Linked DNA regions of Homo sapiens: all the other regions are linked to region 2. The links come from fine-mapping of genetic effects on gene expression. A gene starts in region 2. Each other region holds a variant in brackets. All regions are shown on one strand. Distances are between the middles of the regions. Region 1 overlaps VPS53 (VPS53 subunit of GARP complex). Region 2 holds the start of VPS53 (VPS53 subunit of GARP complex). Region 3 has its middle 19 kb from the start of VPS53-AS1. Region 4 holds the start of LOC124903891 (a long non-coding RNA gene).

The links.
Region 1: its variant is fine-mapped to the expression of VPS53 in whole blood (TOPMed, PIP above 0.99).
Region 3: its variant is fine-mapped to the expression of VPS53 in B cells (Schmiedel 2018, PIP 0.94).
Region 4: its variant is fine-mapped to the expression of VPS53 in whole blood (TOPMed, PIP 0.95).

What each region holds. Positions count from the first base shown.
Region 1 is chr17:525,354-530,353 of GRCh38, forward strand. The region is part of intron 19 of VPS53 (VPS53 subunit of GARP complex); the gene reads right to left. All of the region lies in intron 1 of VPS53-AS1 (VPS53 antisense RNA 1), which reads left to right. Among named protein-coding and RNA genes, the nearest start is that of VPS53-AS1, 5.1 kb to the left of the region's middle. The variant T/G (reference allele first, on the strand shown) is at 2,771.
Region 2 is chr17:712,683-717,682 of GRCh38, forward strand. It overlaps VPS53 (VPS53 subunit of GARP complex), which reads right to left and starts at 2,157. Exons shown (of 22, transcript NM_001128159.3): 1 at 1,941-2,157. The coding sequence starts at 2,027. RefSeq lists an enhancer at 2,629-2,698.
Region 3 is chr17:500,916-506,176 of GRCh38, forward strand. No RefSeq gene overlaps it. Among named protein-coding and RNA genes, the nearest start is that of VPS53-AS1, 19 kb to the right of the region's middle. The variant CAAAAAAA/C (reference allele first, on the strand shown) is at 2,666.
Region 4 is chr17:555,715-560,714 of GRCh38, forward strand. It overlaps VPS53 (VPS53 subunit of GARP complex), which reads right to left. Exons shown (of 22, transcript NM_001128159.3): 15 at 4,712-4,859. It overlaps LOC124903891 (a long non-coding RNA gene), which reads left to right and starts at 170. Exons shown (of 2, transcript XR_007065571.1): 1 at 170-305; 2 at 502-626. RefSeq lists an enhancer at 4,287-5,000. The variant T/C (reference allele first, on the strand shown) is at 2,549.

The DNA of each region.
Region 1 (5,000 bases), 190 kb before region 2:
GGTCTTCAGCAATAACTGTAATGATTTACTTTACATAAAAATGATCTAAAGCAGGCAGGGTGTGGCAGCTCATGCCTGTAATCCCAGCATTTTGGGAGGCTGAGGCAGAAGGATCACTTGAGGCTACGAATTCAAGATTACCCTGGGCAACACAGTGAGACCTTGTCTCTACAAAAACAAAAATAATAAGATTAGACAGGCACAGTGGCACACACTTGTAGTCTCAGCTACTTAGGAGGCTGAGGTGGGAAGATGGCTTAAGCCCAGGAATTCCAGGTTGCAGTGAGCTATGATGGCACCATTGCACCCCAGCCTGGGAGACAGAGTGGGACCCTGTCTCTTAAGAAAAGAAAAAAAAAATGGGCCAGGCGCGGTGTCTCATGCCTGCAATCCCAGAACTTTGGGAGGCTGAGGTGGGAGGATCACTTAAGGTCAGGAATTTGAGACCAGCCTGGCCAACATGGTGAGACCCCATCTCTACTAAAATACAAAAATTAGCCAGATATGGTGGTGCACACCTGTAATCCCAGCTACTCGGGAGGCTGAGGCAGGAGAATTGCTTGAACTCGGGAGGTGAAGGTTGCAGTGAGCCGAGATCGCGCCATTGTACTCCAGACTGGGCAACACGGTGAGACATTTTCTCAAAAAAAAAAAAAAAAAAAAAAAAGATGTAAAGTAAATGTGGAAACATGTTACATATTTTGCTGAGCTGAGTAGTTAGTTACTGTTTTTTACATTATTTTCTGTACATTAATTAACTGGAATTTTTGTTTAAAGACTACCATTCAGGACTCAACTCTGTCTTCCATGTAGCAAATTTTGAGAGCCTTGTCAAAATCAAAGCCATGTCTTAGCATTCATTTGTTGGTAGGAAAAAAAAAATCAGTCATTATATTTTAAAGCATATGGAGATATTTCCTACTTTTCTACTTCCCAGAGATACATTATATGCATAAATAATTGTACAGTCTTAAATGACAGGAAGGGTTTGAATGCACCAGGCATAATTCTCTAGTGTCCCTCATATACAGGGAGATATGACACTTTCATTCCCTGGCCAGTCACCATAAAATTCTGTCTTTACCAGACACTGAGAGGTGAAAACCCTGGTCTCAGGTTTTATACATAAAGCAAGGCAGTCAGAAAAGGCGGGAATGAGCCTGACAGATTTGGCGGCTGTCTGTGCAAAGACAAGACAGAAAGGTCCCATTTATCATGAAAATCTGCTAGTTTTCAACTTTGAAATAGTTGATAATTCATCTTCTTAGGCATGAGACATTGGGCAAGGGGTGGCTATTGCCACATTCATTTCTGCCTCAGCGATAATTTCTGGGGCAGTGTGGGCTGGCTAATGTTGTTGATGGGATGTGGGGGTGCAAGGGTGGCCAGTATGCCATGCCTGTGAAGGCTGATCACCCAGCAATGGAAATCTTTGAGAGGGGCCCTTTACTTCCCGAGGAGCCTCCTACAATTCTTGGGGACATGATGACTATCAACAGTGATGAAAATTTTGCGTAAATAAGATACAGGCCCACACTCCTAGAAGACAAAGAACCATGTGAACAAAACCACATAGGTGAACCATATTGGTCCCACCATAGAAAATTCTTCAATGAGGTGGCACAGGGGAGACAGCTCAGGCTATCAGGAGGGATGGAACAAGGTGGACACATGTTCTATTTCTTTTTCTTTTTAAAAAAATTAGGTATAACTTTCACAGAGTACACAAACACCACGTATGCCATTTGATCAACATCCAGACATGTGCACATCCTGCTGCCTAACGGAAGACAGAGCACACTTCTGGCATCCCTGAAGCCTTCCTCATGCTCTCGTCCAGTCAATGCTCTCCTTTCCCTCTCAACAAACTCTCCTGCTGTCTCTCACTGTAGCTAGTTGCCTGCTCATAAACCTGCTCTGAACATTCGTCTCTCCTACTCTCTCTCACTGTAGCTAGTTGCCTGCTTCATAAACTTGCTGTGAACATTCGTCTCTCCTGCTCTCTCTCACTGTAGCTTGTTTCCTGCTCATAAACCTGCTGTGAACATTCGTGCGCATGCCTTTGGTGGTCATAAAGTCCTCATTTCTCTAGGGTGGAAGCTACTCAAGAGTAGAACTGCTGGATCATGGGGTAGGCATATGTTTGGCTAACTGCCTAGGAGTTTTCCAATGTGGCTGGGCTAACTTCCATTTCTACCAGCACATATGAAAGTTCCAGATGCTCCACATCCTTACCAACACTTGGTATCATCACTCTTTTAAATTATTATTATGATTAGAGACAGGGTCTTACTCTGTCACCTGGGCTGGAATGCAGTGGTGCAATCATAGCTCACTGCAACCTTGAACTCCTTGGCTCAACTGATCCTCCTGTCTCAGCTTCCCGAGTGGCTAGGACTACAGGCACGTGCCACACTTGGCTAATTTTTAAATTGTTTTGTAGAGATGGGGTCTCGCTGTGTTGCCCAGGCTGATCTCAAACTGCTGAGCTCAAGCAGTCTTCCTGCCACAGCCTCCCAGAGTGCTAGGATTACAGGCACAAGCCATCGCACTTGGCCAAAGTCTTTTAAGTACTCAAAATAACCAATCTTTTCTTTTATGGTTAGTGCTTTTAATGTTTTGTTTAAGGGATCTTTGCCTAACCCAAGGTCATAAACATATTGTCTTATATTAAATCTTCCAGAAGCTTTATTGCCTTATTTTTTAGAGCCATAATCCATCTGGGATTAATTTTCTAAAAATGGAGATATAATTCAAAAACCATAAAATT[T/G]ACCTTTTGGAAGTGTACAATTCAGTGGTTTTTAAGGTCTATTCACAAGGTTGTACAGCTGTCAGCATTATCTGGTTTCAGAACACATTATCACCCCAGAAAGAAACCCTTACCCATTAGCAGCCATTCCCATCTCCCCCTCCCTCAGCCTTTGCCAACCATTAATCCACTTTCTGTTTTACGGATTTGCCTGTTCTGGACATTTCACAGAAGCAGAGTCACACAATAGGTGGCTTTTTGTGTCTGGCTTCTTTCACTTAACATGGTTTCAAGGCTCTTCCATGTTGTAGCATGAATGGGTACTTTATTCCTTTTAATGGCTGAGTAATATTCCCTTGTATGGATAGACCACATTTTGTTTATCATCAGCTGATGGACATTTGAGTTGTTTCTACTTTCTGGCTATTATAAATGGTGCTGCTATGAATATTTGTGTACAAGCTTTTGTGTGAACACATTTTTTTTTCAATTCTTTTTTTTTTTTTTTTTTTTGAGACAGAGTCTCACCCTGTCACCCAGCCTGAAGGTACAGTGGCGCAATCTTGGCTCACTGCAATCTCTGCCTCCCAGGTTCAAGTGATTCTCCTGCCTCAGCTTCCCGAGTAGCTGGAGTTACAGGTGCACACCACCATGTACAGCTAATTTTTGTATTTTTAGTAGAAGTGGGTTTTCACCATGTTGGCCAGGCTGGTCTCGAACTCCTGACCTCAGGTGATCTGCCTGCCTCAGCCTCCCAAAGTGCTGGGATTACAGGTGTGAACCATGCACCCTGCCTTTTTCAATTCATTTGGGTATATATCTAGGAGTATAATTGCTGGGCCCTGTGGTAACTCTATGTAAATGCCAAACTGTTTTCCAAAATGGCTGTACCGTTTTGCATTACCACCAGCAATGTATGAGTGTTCTAATTTCACCAAATCCTCTTTGGAATTGATTTTTATATATGGTGTGTGGCAAAGGTCAAGATTTTTTTCCGATATGGATATCCAATTACCCAGCACTATTTACTGAAAAGACTCTCTTTGAATGATGCCACTTTGGTCATAAATCAAGTATCTACACATGTGTGGGTCTATCCCTCAGCTCAGATCTGTTCTGTTGGCCTCTTTGTCCCTGGGGCCAGTGCCACACTGCTCTAATTACAATACTGCTGCAATAAGTCTTGATATCCTGAGCTTTAACTCCTCCAATTCTGTTCTAAGATTATTTTGGCTGTTGTCTTCTGTATTTTCATCTAACTTTTAAAATCAGCATATCAATTCACACACACACACTCACACACACACACACACACACACACCCCTGCTGGGATTCTACTGTATCTATAGATAAATTGATACAGTAATTAGGATTGAATTCTATCTATAGATTAATTTTGGAATAATTTGCCGCTTTTTAAATTGTTATTTATTTTTTATTGGGCAGCCTCCTCAGCCAGAGCAGGCTCAGAAAGACTCCATATGTATTTCTTTTTGAGTCTTTCTTATCAATGAACATGAGCTATCCTGTCATTTTAAAGGTCTTTATGGATTCTGTGTCTTAATATTGTACAGTTTTCTGTGTAGAAGACTTGTACATTTTTAATTTACTCCTAGGTATTTAATGTTTCCTGATGTTATTGTAAATGATTTCATTTAGGCCTGGGAGCCATGGCTCACGCCTGTAATCGCACCACTTTGGGAGGCTGAGGAGGGTGGAGTTTGAGACCAGCCTGGGAGACACAGGGAGGCAGACCCTATATCTACCAAAAAAAAAAAAAAAGAGCCAGCCAGGCATGGTAGTACATTCCTGTAGTCCCAGATACTTGAGAAGTTGAGGCAGGAGGATGGCTTGAGCCCACGAATTGAGACTGCAGTGAGCTATGATTGTGCCACTGTACTCACTCCAGCCTGGGCAATACAGCAAAAAAAAAAAGTATTTCACTCAAAAATGTTCATTTTTAAATTGTTTGCTGCTGGTATATAGAAATATATTTTAAAACACTTTCCTTATAGCCAGCAACCTTGCTAAATTTATATTCTTTTTTTTTTTTTTTTTTTGAGACGGAGTCTCTATCACTCAGGCTGGAGTGCAGTGGCGCAATCTCAGCTCACTGCAACCTCCCAGGTTCAAGCAGTTCTCCCAGGTTCAAGCAATTCTCCTGCCTCAGCCTCTCGAGCAGCTGGGATTACAGGCGCACCACACCTTGCCCAGCTAATTTTTGTATTTTTAGTAGAGACGGGGGTTTCAC
Region 2 (5,000 bases):
TGCTATACTATCACTCAAACTTATTCTTACAAAATAGGAAAAATGTCAGAATTCACCGCTATGTAATTCATCCATGTAATCAAAAACCACCTGTACCCCAAAAGCTGTTGAAACAAACAAAAGAAATAGCAAAAATGTGCTTTTCTGATACCTGTCAACCAAACAGTAACTGACTGCATTATTCTTTTCTTCCATGAGAGCCCACTAGTCCAAAGAGCAACAGAAATGTTATGTCTTTTTCTGGCAAAAGGAGGTAAGTGGTGGAGCCGTGTGGCCGGAACACTAAAAGCTTCCTGCCCAATGGTTTGGCGTTCTCAGGCTAGGACAAAGTTGGTTGTATAAGTAATCCAACCACTACTGGAAAAACACACATCGAAGCGTCAATGAATGCACCTGTAGTCCCAGCTACTCGGGAGGCTGAGGCAGGGTTATCACTTGAGCCCCAGGAGTTCGAGGCTGCAGTGAGCTACGATTATGCCACTGTACTCCAGCCTGGACAACAGAGCAAGACCCTATCTCAAAAAAAAAAAGTTTCCCAGGGGTCATTAAATAAGGCATAATGGAATTGTCCATTTCCTCAATCATAAATCCCTTTCTTAAATCATATAACTTCATGACAATTCCTTTAAGGGAGATTTTCTCCGTTTATCAGGAGCAATACCCTGCAGTATTAGAAATCACTATTTCTGACCGGGTGCAGTGGCTCACACCTGTAATCCCAGCACTTTGGGAGGCCGAGGCGGGCGGATAGCCTGAGGTCAGGAGTTCAAGACCAGCCTGGCCAACATGGTGAAACCCGGTCTCTACTAAAAATACAAAAATTAGCTAGGCATGGTAGCGGTTGCCTGTAGTCCCAGCTACTCAGGAGGCTGAGGCAGGAGAATCACTTGAACCTGGAAGCGGAGGTTGCAGTGAGCCGAGATGGCACCCCTACACTCCAACCTGGGCGAAAGAGCGAGACTCCGTCTCAGAAAACAAAAAAAAAGAAAAAAAGAAAAGAAAAAAATCACTATTTCTAATATCATTAGCCTTAAAAACTCAATAAACTTGCAAAGGCAAGAGTTCCTGCAGGCAGGGCCGCGCGTGGTGGCTCACGCCTGTAATCCCAGCACTTTGGGAGGCCAAGGCGGGCGGGTTACTTGAGCTCAGGAGTTCGAGACCATCCTGGCCAAAACGGTGAAACCCCCGTCTTTACCCCAAAAAAAAAAAAAAATTAGCCGGGTGTGGTGGCGTGCGCCTGTAATCACAGCTACTCAGGAGGCTGAGACAGGAGAATCGCTTGAACTCGGGAGGCGGAGGTCGCAGTGAGCCGAGATCGTGCCGTTGCACTCCAGCCCGGGCGACAGAGCGAGAATCCGTCTCAAAAAAAAAAAAAAAAAAAAGTTCCTGAAGGGAAAAGAGGCCCCTTGGGAGTATTCTCCAACCTCACCCAAACTATTCAACGGTAGGAATTCTCAACCTTTTAAGAATGGTAACGATGTCATTTTTCAACACTTTCTCTCTTCTCTGCCGTCCGCTTCAGAAATTAAAGTCATTCCCTTCCCCCAGTTCCAAGCCACTCACGAGGTGCCAGCTTGCAAAACCGGGGCGTTGGCACGAGTCTGGTAAATGCATGAAGCCCCCACAGTCCCCAGAATCTGAGGATGGCACCCAAGGCCTGCATTCTCCTAGCGTCGTCCTCTCTAAGCGCACAATTCCTTTCCCCAAAACCACCAGAACCCCCAGCCCTCGCCAAAGACAATCAAAGCCTAGAAAGGGTTCTCTTTCCTTTCCTTCTGATTCAGAAACCGCTTCTCACCCGCACCACCTCCCCACCTCCACTTTCCCTTCTGCCGCGAGCCCCCGGCCCTCCGTCCACCCGCCGCGGCCTCCCCAGCGCCCGGAGCTGCCGTCTCCCCTCCCGCACTCCCGTTTCCCCTCCTGAGGGGCGGAACGCTTACCTGCTCGATGGCCAGCTGCACCTCGGGCGTGAGCTGCAGCACGGCTTCCAGCTCCTCCACGAACTCCAGTTCCTCCTCCTCCATCATTCCGCCACCCGGCCCCCTGCCGACCCCCGCCGCGAGCCCAACTCAGGCCTCCAGCCGCCACCCAGGCCCCAGCACAGCAACTCCCTCGCGGCAGCGACCTGGTGAGCCCGGCTCCGTCAGCCGCTCTGTCAGCCGCTCCGGCACTTCCGGCAGGCCAGGGCACTTCCGGGACCGGGGAACTGTGGGATCACGGCGGACTGAGACTGGCGGCGTTCCTGTCACGTCAGGTGTCTCCCGGGCAACGCAGTATCCCGGCGGCCCCGCGTGGCCTCAGCGCGTCCTTAGGATGGGCGGGGCCTCTTCCCTCCCCAAGGCGCGCCCCGCACTGAGGACCCCGAGGTTGGGGTAGGGTCTGGCCTCCAGCAGGACGCCCGGATGAAAGTCAGCCCTGCGGCGTCGCCAACCGCAGCCCACAGCCTCCGCGGGCAGCGCAGCGGCGACCTCTCAGCTCCCGGGGCCCCCTCGGTCAGTGGCAGCGGGTGTCCCCGGCCACGGGGGCGACGTGATCCCAGCTGGCGAGTGGCGATGTCGCCAAGGACATTCGTAGGACGGGACAGTGCCCACTCGATAGAAATTCCCCGTGCGCCGGGCTCTGCGCAGAAGCTTTTCGAGGTGACTGCAGCCTCCTTATGGGGAGAAACGTCTTTTTTTTTTTTTTTTTTTTTTTTGAGACGGAGTCTTACTTGTTGCCCAGGCTGGAGTGCAACGGCGCGATCTCGGCTCACTGCAACCCCGCCTGCTGGGTTCAAGCGATTCTCCTGTCTCAGCCTCCCGAGTAGCTGGGATTACAGGCGCCCGCCACCACGCCCAGCTAATTTTTGTATTTTTAGTGGAGACGAGGTTTCACCATGTTGGCCAGGCTGGTCTCGAACTCTTGACCTCGTGATCCGCCCGCCTCGGCCTCCCAAAGTGCTGGGATGACAGGCGTGAGCTACTGCGCCCGGCCAGAAACGTTTTTTTAAAGCCAGATGACGCAGCGCCCTGGAGCTGGGGAGACGTTTACTGAGGTTGAATATCCGGGATCTAAGTCCTGAATAGTCCACCATTGATAAGTTGTGTGACTTGGAACAAATTACTACCCCGCGTCGATGTGGAGAGGATTAAACATTAACAGCGCGATGTAAATTCAAGCTGGTAATACAGGAAATAGTGAGGTGCCCAGCCCTTACCCCCACAAAGGAACAAATAAGCCAGATCACCGATCACCCTGTGAAACCACCTTTCCTGCAGACACTGAAAAGAAGGAGGGAATTGCAGCCCAAGGAGGACCCGCTCCACCAGGTGAACCGGGAAACTCCAGGAGGGAAACGCGTTGGCCCCACTGAACTTTTTTTTGTTGTTGTTATCAGAGTTGCTCAAAGTAAAAAATAGGAGCAGTATGATTTTTTCTTTTATTTTTAATTGACAAATAATAATTATATAAACAATGTAATTTCTAACAACAAAGGAATGCTAAAAAATATACATTAAAAAAAGAAAAAAAAGACAAAATAAAATATACATTGAACCTGGTGCAGTGGCACAGGCCTGCAGCCCCAGCTACTCAGGAGGCTGAGGCAGGGAATTATTGACTTTCTGAGATTGAATATCAGGGGTCTAGATCTCATCCCACCACTGAGGATCGCTTGAGCCCAGGAGTTTGAGGCTGCAGTGAGGAATGATTCCTTTGCGCCACTGCACTCCAGCCTGGGCCACAAAGGGAGACTCTGTCTCTTAAGTAAACATAGAATATTATTGATTCATAAAATCATGATTTTGAAAATTAATGACATGAAAAATATGCACAATATATTTCAGAAAGCAAAATGTATAATTTCATTTAAAAAATGCATAGCATGGTCCCAGCTTTGTGTGTATTCTGTGCCAATAAAGCTCACAGCAAGGAAATATTACTTTTCTGCACGTGATGAATGTACATCCTTTGTACATTTTCCCAAATGTCTACAATGAGCCTGTAGTTCTCTCATGCTCAGAAAATATGAATGCCTTTTTCTAAAAGGAAAAGGTAATTATAGCTACTTATTTTGGACTTTTTTTTTCCTTTAAAAAATTAAGATATTTACATACAGTAAAATTTACTCTTGCAATTTATGATGCAGTGAGTTTTGATAAATGTGTATAAACGACTGGGCATGGTGACTCACGCCTATAATCCCAGCACGTGGGGAGGCCGAGGCTGCCAGATCACTTGAGGTCAGGGGTTCGAGACCAGCCTGGCCAACATGGTAAAACCCGTCTCTATCTACTAAAAATACAAAACGTAGCTGGCCGTGGTGGTGCACAGAATCACTTGAACCCGAGAGGTGGAGGTTGCAGTGAGCCAAGATTGCACCATTGCACTCCAGCCTGGGTGACAGAGCAAGACTCCATCTCAAAACAAACAAACAAATAATAAGAAAACAATAATAAAACAAAATAAATAAATGTATATAACCATGTAACTACTACCACAATCTAGTTATAGGACAATTTCATTCCCCCAAATTCCCTCTTGCCTCACCCCATCCACTGGCAACCACTGACTTGATTTCTGTCCCTATAGTTTTTGTTTTTGTTTTTGTTTTTTTGAGACGGAGTCTCGCTCTATCACCCAGGCTGGAGTGCAGTGGTGCAATCTCAGCTCACTGCAACCTCCGCCTCCCGGGTTCAAGCGATTCTCCTGCCTCAGCCTCCTGAGTAGCTGGGATGACAGGCACGTGCCACCACACCTGGCTAATTTTTGTATTTTTAGTAGAGACAGGGTTTCATCATGTTGCCCAGGATGGTCTCAAACTCCTGACCTCAGGTGATCTGCCAGCATCAGGCTCCCAAAGTGCTGGGGTTACAGGCATGAGCCACCACGCCTGGCCTGTCCCTATAGTTTTGATATTTCCAGAATATCATATAGATGGAATCATACAGTATGACACCTTTTCAGTCTGGCTTCTTTCATCTGTCATAAAGTATCTAAAATTCATCCATGTTGTTGCATGT
Region 3 (5,261 bases), 210 kb before region 2:
TTCAAGCGATCCTCCCGTCTCAGCCTCCCGAGTAGCTGGGACTACAGGAGCGCACCACCACACCCGGATAATTTTTTGTAGAGATGGGGTTTCACCGTGTTGCCCAGGTCACTCTCAAACTCCTGGGCTCAAGTGATCTGCCTGACTTGGTCTTCCAAAGTCCTGGGATTATAGGTGTGAGCCACCATGCCCAGCCTTAATCATTTTAAGTGGAAATGTAACCATTTTAGGATAATGTCCTACAAAAATGTGAGTACAAGCAAGCAAAGACATTTGCAGAAAGATTTTCACAGATGATGTGAGTCTAATGCCAAAAAACTAAACACAGCCTTTTGGCTATATTGCTAGAAGACTGGCTGTCTCAGTGTATTCACGCTGCTACAATAAAATGCCACGGACTAATTGATAAATAGTAGATCGTTGTTCCTTACAGCTCTGGAGGCCAGGACGTCGAAGATCAGGTGCTGACGGACTCCGTGCCCAGTGAGGGCTGCTCTTTGCTTCCAAGATGGCGCCATGTTGCTTGTTACATGGCAGAAGGCAGAAAGTCACAGGGTGTCACACAGCTCCCCTGCACCTCTTTATAAGGTCATAATCCCATTCTTGAGGCCCCTTCTTCATGATTTAACCACCTCCTAAGGGCCCCACATCTTAATACTATCACATCGGGGATTCACTTTCAACATAAGAATTTTGGAGGGACATATACATTCAAACCATAGCACTGATGACATAAATGATGGGACCGGGTGAAGTGGCTCACGCCTGTAATCCCAGCACTTTGGGAGGCCAAGGAGGGCAGATCACCTGAGGTCAGGAGTTTGAGACCAGCCTGGCCAGCATGGCGAAACCCTGTCTCTACTAAAAAATACAAAAATTAGCCAGGCGTGGTGGCGGGCGCCTGTAATCCCGGCTACTCAAGAGGCTGAGGCAGGAGAATCGCTTGAACCTGGCAGAAGGAGGTTGCAGTGAGCCGAGATCGCACCATTGCACTCCAGCAGCCTGAGGACAGGGCGAGGCTCCGTCTCAAAAAAAAGAAAAAAAATGATGGCATAGCTGAGCTATAAAGCACCAAGCAGCCATTAAAAATAATGAGTAGATCTATACATGGCAAGGGAAAAGTCCAAGATGTACAGTCAGCCTTCTGCATCTGCCAGTTCTGCAGCTACAGATTCAACCAACTCTGGAATGAAAATACAGAATTCTCAGGATGCTGAGAAGTCAAGACCCAAATTTTTGTGCCCACAGGTTCCACAGGGCTGACTCGGGGCCTGGGACCTGAGCATCCAGGATTTTGTTATCTGGCAGGTGGGGGGGCCTGCTTCATGTTAATTTCTTTTTTTTTTTTTTCCTTTGACAAAGTATCTCCTTTTTCCCACATACAGATACAGAGAAATCTTCACAGGAGAGTAGGACTTCTGATATATTTCCATGTAGTGGTTTTTTTTTTGTTGTTGTTTTTTGAGACAGTCTCACTCTGGCTGGAGTGAACTGGCATGATCTCAGCTCACTGAAAGCTCCACCTCCCGGGTTCAAGTGATTCTCCTGCCTCAGCCCCCCGAGTAGCTGGGATTACAGGCATGTGCCACCAAAACTGGCTAATTTTTTTTTTTTTCCCCTGAGATGGCGTCTCGCCTATTGCCCAGGCTGGAGTGCAATGGCGCGATCTTGGCTCATTGCAACCTCCGCCTCCCAGACTCAAATGATTCTCCTGCCTCAGCCTCCCAAGCAGCTGGGATTACAGGTGTGCGCCATGATGCCTGGCTAATTTTTTGTTATCTTTAGTAGGGATGGGCTTTCACCATGTTGGCCAGGCTGGTCTTGTACTCCTGACCTCGTGATCCGCCCGCCTCGGCCTCCCAAAGTGCTGGGATGACAGGCGTGAGCCACCGCGCCCGGCCCCACTGTACTTTAAAAATGAGCATTGCTACTGCAATATTATAGGGTAATAGCAGCACAGGCCACACTGAGCCATCAGTGTCGTCGGTTTTGAGAAGAGACCCGCTGGAGCCAGGCTCTTTAGCTCCTTCTGAGAAACCCTACGGAAAGAGGCGTGGAGCAGGCCCAGCCGGGAGCCCAGGGAGAGTGGACTCCGCACACCGAGACCCGCCTGAGCAGCAGAGAATGGCTTCCGGCTTCCGCACACCGAGACCCGCCGGTGCAGGGGTGAATGGCTTCCGGCTTCCGCACACCGAGACCCGCCGGTGCAGGGGTGAATGGCTTCCGGCTTCCGCACACCGAGACCCACCTGAGCAGCAGAGAATGGCTTCCGGCTTCCGCACACCGAGACCCGCCTGAGCAGCAGAGAATGGCTTCCGGCTTCCGCACACCGAGACCCGCCGGTGCGGGCTTCCTGGGACTTCCATTCTTGATTTGTTGGGGCAAGATTTTCTTTTGATTTCTGTGACTGTTCTCTGTGTAATCATTAAGAAAAAAATGTTATGATAAACTAACCATATTGGCTGACAGCCAGAGTGGTTAGGGGTGAGTAAGGTGTTGAGATTGAGGCCCTAGGAAAGGAAGGTGGAGCCATTTAGAAATGGGGAATTCAGCCGGGTGCGGTGGCTCATGCCTGTAATCCCCACACATTGGGAGGCCGAGGCGGGAGGCTCACTTGAGCCCAAGAGTTTGAGACAAGACTGGGCAATAGAATAAGACCCTGTCT[CAAAAAAA/C]AAAAAAAAAAAAAAAAAAAGAGAGAGAGACAAGAAAAGAAAAAAAGAAAAATGGGGGATTCAGGAAGGAAGCTGAGCTTACCTCGAGATGGTGCATATAAGCTAATGATGGGAGTTGGCTAGAAGACAGGAACTGAAAATTGGGGGGAGCTCAGGTGTAGCTGGTGTTTGCACCTGTGATGGCAGGTAAGTCCTCAGGAGCCTGGCATGAAAACAGGGGGCCTAAGACCTCGAGGCCTGGCCGCTGTCAAGGCTCAGAAGGAGAGGAGAGCTGGGGAAGGAGACTAAGAAGTCCCAGAGCCAGTAAAGCAGTTAAGGGAGAATTCCGGAGAGAGGAGGACTCACAGAGTTAAGGGAGAATTCCGGGGAGAGGGGGACTCACACAGTTAAAGGAGTATTCCGGGGAGGAGGACTCAGAGTTAAGGGAGGATTCCGGGGAGAGGGGGACTCACACAGTTAAAGGAGTATTCCAGGGAGGAGGACTCAGAGTTAAGGGAGAATTCCGGGGAGAGGGGGACTCACACAGTTAAAGGAGTATTCCGGGGAGGAGGACTCAGAGTTAAGGGAGGATTCCAGGGAGAGGGGGACTCACACAGTTAAAGGAGGATTCCAGGGAGAGGGGACTCACACACAGATGCCCCTCCACAGATGATGGGGTTACGTCCCAATAAACCCACTGTAAGTTACATTGTTAAGTCAAAAATGCATTTAATACACCTAACCTCCCCAATGTCATAGCTTAGCCTAGCCTACCTTAAACGTGCTCAGAACAGTTACATTATCCTGCAGTTGGGCAGGACAGATGTGAGCCGGGCTAGAAGGGCATCGGTGACCTTCGAGAGAAGGGTCAGGACAGATGTGAGCCAGACGAAGAACCTCAGTGACCTTCGAGAGAAGGAAATGTCAGGACAGATGTGAGCTGGGCTAGAAGGGCATCGGTAACCTTTGAGAGAAGGAAGGGTCAGGACACATGTGAGCCAGATTAGAATAACATCGGTGACCTTCGAGAGAAGGAAGGGTCAGGACAGATGTGAGCCAGATTAGAATAACATCGGTGACCTTCGAGAGAAGGGTCAAGACAGATGTGAGTCAGGCTAGAAGGGCATCGGTGACCTTCCAGAGAAGGGTCAAGACAGATGTGAGTCAGGCTAGAAGGGCATCGGTGACCTTCCAGAGAAGGGTCAAGACAGATGTGAGTCAGGCTAGAAGGGCATCGGTGACCTTCCAGAGAAGGGTCAAGACAGATGTGAGTCAGGCTAGAAGGGCATCGGTGACCTTCCAGAGAAGGGTCAAGACAGATGTGAGTCAGGCTAGAAGGGCATCGGTGACCTTTGAGAGCAGGGTCAGGACAGTGGTTGAGATGGAAGCTGACTTTCTAGAAGGGCATCGGTGACCTTGGAGAGCAGGGTCAGGACAGTGGTTGAGATGGAAGCTGACTTTGTAGAAGAGCATTGGTGACCTTCGAGAGCAGGGTCAGGACAGCGGTTGAGATGGAAGCTGACTTTCTAGAAGAGCACCGGTGACCCTCGAGAGCAGGGTCAGGACAGTGGTTGAGATGGAAGCTGACTTTCTAGAAGAGCACCGGTGACCTTCGAGATCAGGGTCAGGACAGCGGTTGAGATGGAAGCTGACTTTGTAGAAGAGCATTGATGACCTTCGAGATCAGGGTCAGGGCAGTGGTTGAGATGGAAGCTGACTTTCTAGAAGAGCACCGGTGACCCTCGAGAGCAAGGTCAGGACAGCGGTTGAGATGGAAGCTGACTTTGTAGAAGAGCATTGGTGACCTTCGAGATCAGGGTCAGGACAGCGGTTGAGATGGAAGCTGACTTTCTAGAAGAGCACCGGTGACCCTCGAGAGCGGGGTCAGGACAGTGGTTGAGATGGAAGCTGACTTTGTAGAAGAGCATTGGTGACCTTCGAGATCAGGGTCAGGACAGCGGTTGAGATAGAAGCTGACTTTCTAGAAGAGCATTGGTGACCTTCGAGAGCAGGGTCAGGACAGCGGTTGAGATGGAAGCTGACTTTCTAGAAGAGCACCGGTGACCCTCGAGAGCGGGGTCAGGACAGTGGTTGAGATGGAAGCTGACTTTGTAGAAGAGCATTGGTGACCTTCGAGATCAGGGTCAGGACAGCGGTTGAGATGGAAGCTGACTTTCTAGAAGAGCATTGGTGACCTTCGAGAGCAGGGTCAGGACAGCGGTTGAGATGGAAGCTGACTTTCTAGAAGAGCACCGGTGACCCTCAAGAGCGGGGTCAGGACAGTGGTTGAGATGGAAGCTGACTTTGTAGAAGAGCATTGGTGACCTTCAAGATCAGGGTCAGGACAGCGGTTGAGATGGAAGCTGACTTTCTAGAAGAGCACCGGTGACCCTCAAGAGCGGGGTCAGGACAGTGGTTGAGATGGAAGCTGACTTTGTAGAAGAGCATTGGTGACCTTCGAGATCAGGGTCAGGACAGCGGTTGAGATGGAAGCTGACTTTCTAGAAGAGCATTGGTGACCTTCGAGAGCAGGGTCAGGACAGCGGTTGAGATGGAAGCTGACTTTCTAGAAGAGCATTGGTGACCTTCGAGAGCAGGGTCAGGACGGTG
Region 4 (5,000 bases), 160 kb before region 2:
GCAACCAAACATTATGTATCTTGATGACAGACGTACAAAACATCATTATGATGTAGTTTTCTGTAAAAAAGAATCTGAATCAGCTCAGGCTTCTACATCTAACTACCAATTTATGGGAAATACGAGACAAAGTAAAATGTCCATTAATACTCGTGGGTGCAATCAGGAAAATCCAAAACTTGGGAAAATCTACAGGGCAAACAACACAGTTTCTTTAAGAAAAGATTGCAGAGGGGGCAAAGGGAAATGGAAGAAGAAACCAGAGACTTAATAATCTGAGCAGGCTGGACCCAGTGGCTCACCCGGTAATCCCAACTCTTTGGGGGCTGAGGCAAGAAGATCACTTGAGCCCAGGAGCTCAAGACCAGCCTGAGCAACACAGTGAGACCCTATCTCTACAAAAAATAAAAAAATACTGGCCAGGCATGGTGGCAGGTGCCTGAAGTCCCAGTGTAGTCCCAGCCACTTGGGAGGCTGAGGGTAGGATCGCTTTCGTTCCAGGTTTCAGTGAGCTGTGATCAAACCACCGCACTCCAGCCTGGGCAACAGATTGAGACCCCATATTAAACAAAAAGAATCTGAGCAACAAGGAATTGGAAAATAAAATTTAAAAGCAACACCAATAATACATCATTATTGGTTCATTAATTGTAACAAATATTTCATATCAATGTTAATAATATGGGAAACTGGGTAAGTGGTATATGGGAACCATACAAACGATCTTTGCAATTTTTCTGTAAATGTAAAAGTATCCTTAAAAGTGTAGTTTATGTTTTTTAAAAACTATTTACAATAGCAATTCATAACATCGTTCTGTGGTTTGATTGTGTTCTCCAAAGTTTATGGGTTATAAGCTTAATCCCTGAAGCCACAGTGTTGAGAGGTATGAGGTCATGAGGGCTCTGGCATCATCATGGGTTAATGCCATTATCTCAGGAGTGGGCTCTTTTATTCCTTCAAGAGATCTTTATTAAGCACTTATTACGTACCAGGCATTGTATTTGGTGCTAATGAACAGAGGTGAACAAAGTAGACTTTCTGGCATGTAACTTAAAACTAATGGGGGCGCCAGATAATAAGGAAGTAAGCCAGCCGAGACGTAACTTCGGTTTTGTGGTGTTAGGAAATAAATTTGGCAGTGCTGGAATAAGGGAGCTACCTACTGAAGGGGGGTGGCCAGGAGGGCCTCTCTGCTGAAGGGGGGTGGCCAGGAGGGGCTCTCTGAGGAGGTGATACTGAAGCGGGGACCTGAGGCTTGGGGAATGAGACTGCCAAGTGAGAAGCCACCACACCCGGCTAATTTTTGTATTCTTTTAGTAGAGACGGGGTTTTGCCATGTTGACGAGACTGGTCTTAAACTCCTGACCTCAAGTGATCCACCCTCCTCAGCCTCCCAAAGTGCTGGGATTATAGGCATGAGCCACCGCGCCCCCACTCTTCTGGAAGCTCTGAGGAAAAAACTATTTACACCTCTCTTCTAGCTTTGGGTGTTTGCTGGCAATCCTTGATGTTCCTTGGCTCATAGAAGTCTGACTCCAGCCTCTGCCTCCTTCTCACGGCCTTCTTCCCTGTATCTCTGTGTGTTCAATCTCTCTCTCCTTTCTAAGGACAACAGTCATTAGATAAGGCCCCCCACCAATCCTAAATCCAGGACCATCTCATCTTGAGATACTTAATTACATTTACCAAGATAAAGTCACATTTACATGTCCCAAGGCCTAGGACTTGGACATATTTTGGGGTTGGGGGGACACTTCAACCCACTATATCTCCCTGGGTCCTCTTGAGATGACACTAATAGTCTTTGATATTTTTCTTGCTTTTTGTGTAACATGATGTTCTGATTCATCTTGTAGATTTCCTGCCCTTGACCTGGAATTAGTCATTTCTCCAGGAATCTCTGGTTTCTTTTAGTGGAAAATTGTATTTAGAGATCACAATAAAGGTGCTAAGAATGTATTACTTTTGTAATCAATAAAAACAATTTTCACTAAATAAAAAATAATTGGCCACTTGTATCATCAGTCATCAAAATGGTCTTCAACTTATTTCTAGAACTTCTAAGAGTCTGTTCTAGAAAACTAATGCAAAACATTTAAGATGCTATATTCAGAAAGACATTCTTTGTAAGGATTATCTTTTTTTTTTTTTTTTTTTTTAGAGACAGGGTCTCACTCTGTCACCCAGGCTGGAGTGCAGTGGTGTGATCATAGCTCACTGCAGCTTTGACCTCCCAGGCTCAAGCGATCCTCCAACCTCAGCTTCCCAAGTAGCTGAGACCACAGGCATGTACCACCACACTCAACTAACTTTTAAATTTTTTGTAAAGACCAGGTCTCACTATGTTACCCAGGCTGGTCTTGGACTATTGGCCTCAAGCGATCCTTCCACCTTGGCTTCCCAATATGCTAGGATTACAGGCGTGAGCCACTGTACCCTGCCAGGATTATCTATAAAAGCAAAATTTTGGCTGGGCATGGTGGCTCACGCCTATAATCCCAGCACTTTGGAAGGCCAAGGTGAGTGGATCACGAGGTCAGGAGAT[T/C]GAGACCATCCTGGCTAACACAGTGAAACCCCGTCTCTACTAAAAATACAAAAAATTAGCTGTGTGTGGTAGCGGGTGCCTGTAGTCCCAGCTACTCACAGTGGCTCACGTCTGTAATCCCAGCACTTTGGGAGGCCAAGACGGGCAGATCACAAGATCAGGAGATCGAGACTATCCTGGCTAACACAGTGAAACCCGGCCTCTACTAAAAATAAAAAAAAATTAGCCAGGCGTGGTGATGGGAACCCGTAGTCCCAGCTACTCGCGAGGCTGAGGCAGGAGAATGGCGAGAACCCGGCAGGGGGAGCTTGCAGTGAGCCGAGATCGTGCCACTGCACTCCAGCCTGGGTGACAGAGAGAGACTCTGTTTCAAAAAAAAAGCAAAATTTGAAGCACTATAAACAACGATCAGGGATGCTTGCTAAATAAGTTATGGTACAAGGCCGGGCACAGGGGCTCACACCTGTAATCCCAGCACTTTGGGAGGCCAAGGCAGGTGGATCACAAGGTCAAGAGTTGGAGATCAGCCTGGCCAAGATGGTGAAACCCCATCTCTACTAAAAAAAAAAAAAAAATACAAAAATTAGCCGGGGATGGTGATGGGCATCTATAATCCCAGCTACTCAGGAGGCTGAGGCAGAAGAATTGCTTGAACCTGGGAGGTGGAGGCTGCAATGAGCCAAGATCATGGCCACTGCACTCCAGCCTGGAAGACAGAGCAAGACTCTGTCTCAAAATAAATAAATAAATAAATAATTTATGGTATAGTCCCTTAAAGAGAAATATTATGTGGCCATAAACAATGATAGTAATAATGACCCTGTAATGATAGTTATGATTATTACTATCATTATAATGACAGGAGAAATGCTAATGCTATGTATGACACTAACAATAAAAGGATATAACAGTGAATTAAGATTGTAACATTCAAAACTATGTCTATGAATAACAATTGAAAAAATACCCCAAATTGCTAATATGATTATTTGAGGATGATGGGATTAAAAGGGATCTTTATTTTTTTAAATACTACGGTTATTTTACCTTTAAAATAGCATATTTACATGTATCGTATTTCTTTCTGTGCACACCCAAAATAGTTAAACAGTGTTTCTTCATGAAAGAACTCTGGAACCCCTGCCTTGGAGGTCCTTACAGATAGTGCCATCTTACCTGGGGAGTGGCCTGGGGCTAAACGGACTGCTCTGTGGCTCCAAGGCCAAACCCTGGAAGGTCATGACCTTCGCAACTCAACATGACCAGGTCCCCAGGCAGAGTGTGCTGCTGCCTCTGCCTCTGGCTGGCTTATGTGCCACTGAGGGGCCTTGGTAGACACACTTCCTATTTGACCTGCTATATTGCTGCCCTGGCACACAGGAGCTCCAAGCTGGGCTGTCTGAACTATCATTTATGACTGTCTTCTTGTGGTCTAGGCATCTGTAAATTATAAATACAAAGTGGGTAGAAGAGCAGAACCTTTCCAAATTACTTTCTTTCTCTTGGCCTCAGGGGAATCCCAGACCAAGTGTGAAAAGGACTTCTAATTCCATGTTTAAGGCTGAATCAAAGGTTATTCTGGGTCTTCCTTCTGCTCCATCAGTTGCTGAACTATGGCCATGTGGGGGCCTCCAGCAGAGGCATCACCCTTTCCTGTCCCCCAGTTCCTAAACGTCAGCATCCCAAACAATGGCTATTTGTTGAGGCAGATTGAAAATGCCATGTAAATTTCAGAAGACACATAAAAGCCCAAAGGATTCTGCTTAACTTAGTAACACTTCTGAGCATGGAATAACTGGCTGTGACTCATCATCACCAAAGGCTGGGTCCTAGCACAGACAAGCTTGTTACTGCTTTTCTCATATGGGTTGGAGTGCTACTGACCTACTTTTAACAGGTCATGCCCTTTGAGGAGCTTACACAACTCCAGGGAGGTGACCAGTCATACTTTCTTGCCCAGTCTTCTTTTAACAAGGCCTTTCTGTAAGACAGCTGCCTGGGCAGCCTTATGGCTGGACACTGAGCTTTCCTCTGTGGCAGGCCAACTGGTCTGACCCAAGGTTGTCTGTGGCCATGTTAGGACGTATATTCTTACTCGCCGAGCGACGCAGCCCAGAGGGTTCAGGAAAAGGAGGTGGTGAGTGGGCAGCCAGGATGGCTCACCTGCTGGGTGGTGGCCAGACAGTACTCTGCCGTGCTCAGGATGTTACAGATGAGGCAGAGCTCCTCCAGAGTGAACTTGGCTACTTCTGAGCCCTCCTTTTCCTTGAGGAGGCTGCTGATAGTCAGTCCTCCACTGCTGGTTGTGGTTCTGAAGAAAAGGAACAGGAACAAGTCAGCATGGAATTTCTAATTTGCTTCCTGAACTGGAAACTACATTATTTTAAGATACAGAAAAGGGGGAAGTAAAGGCTGGACATGGCCCAAATCAATTCACATACAATGAGTCCTT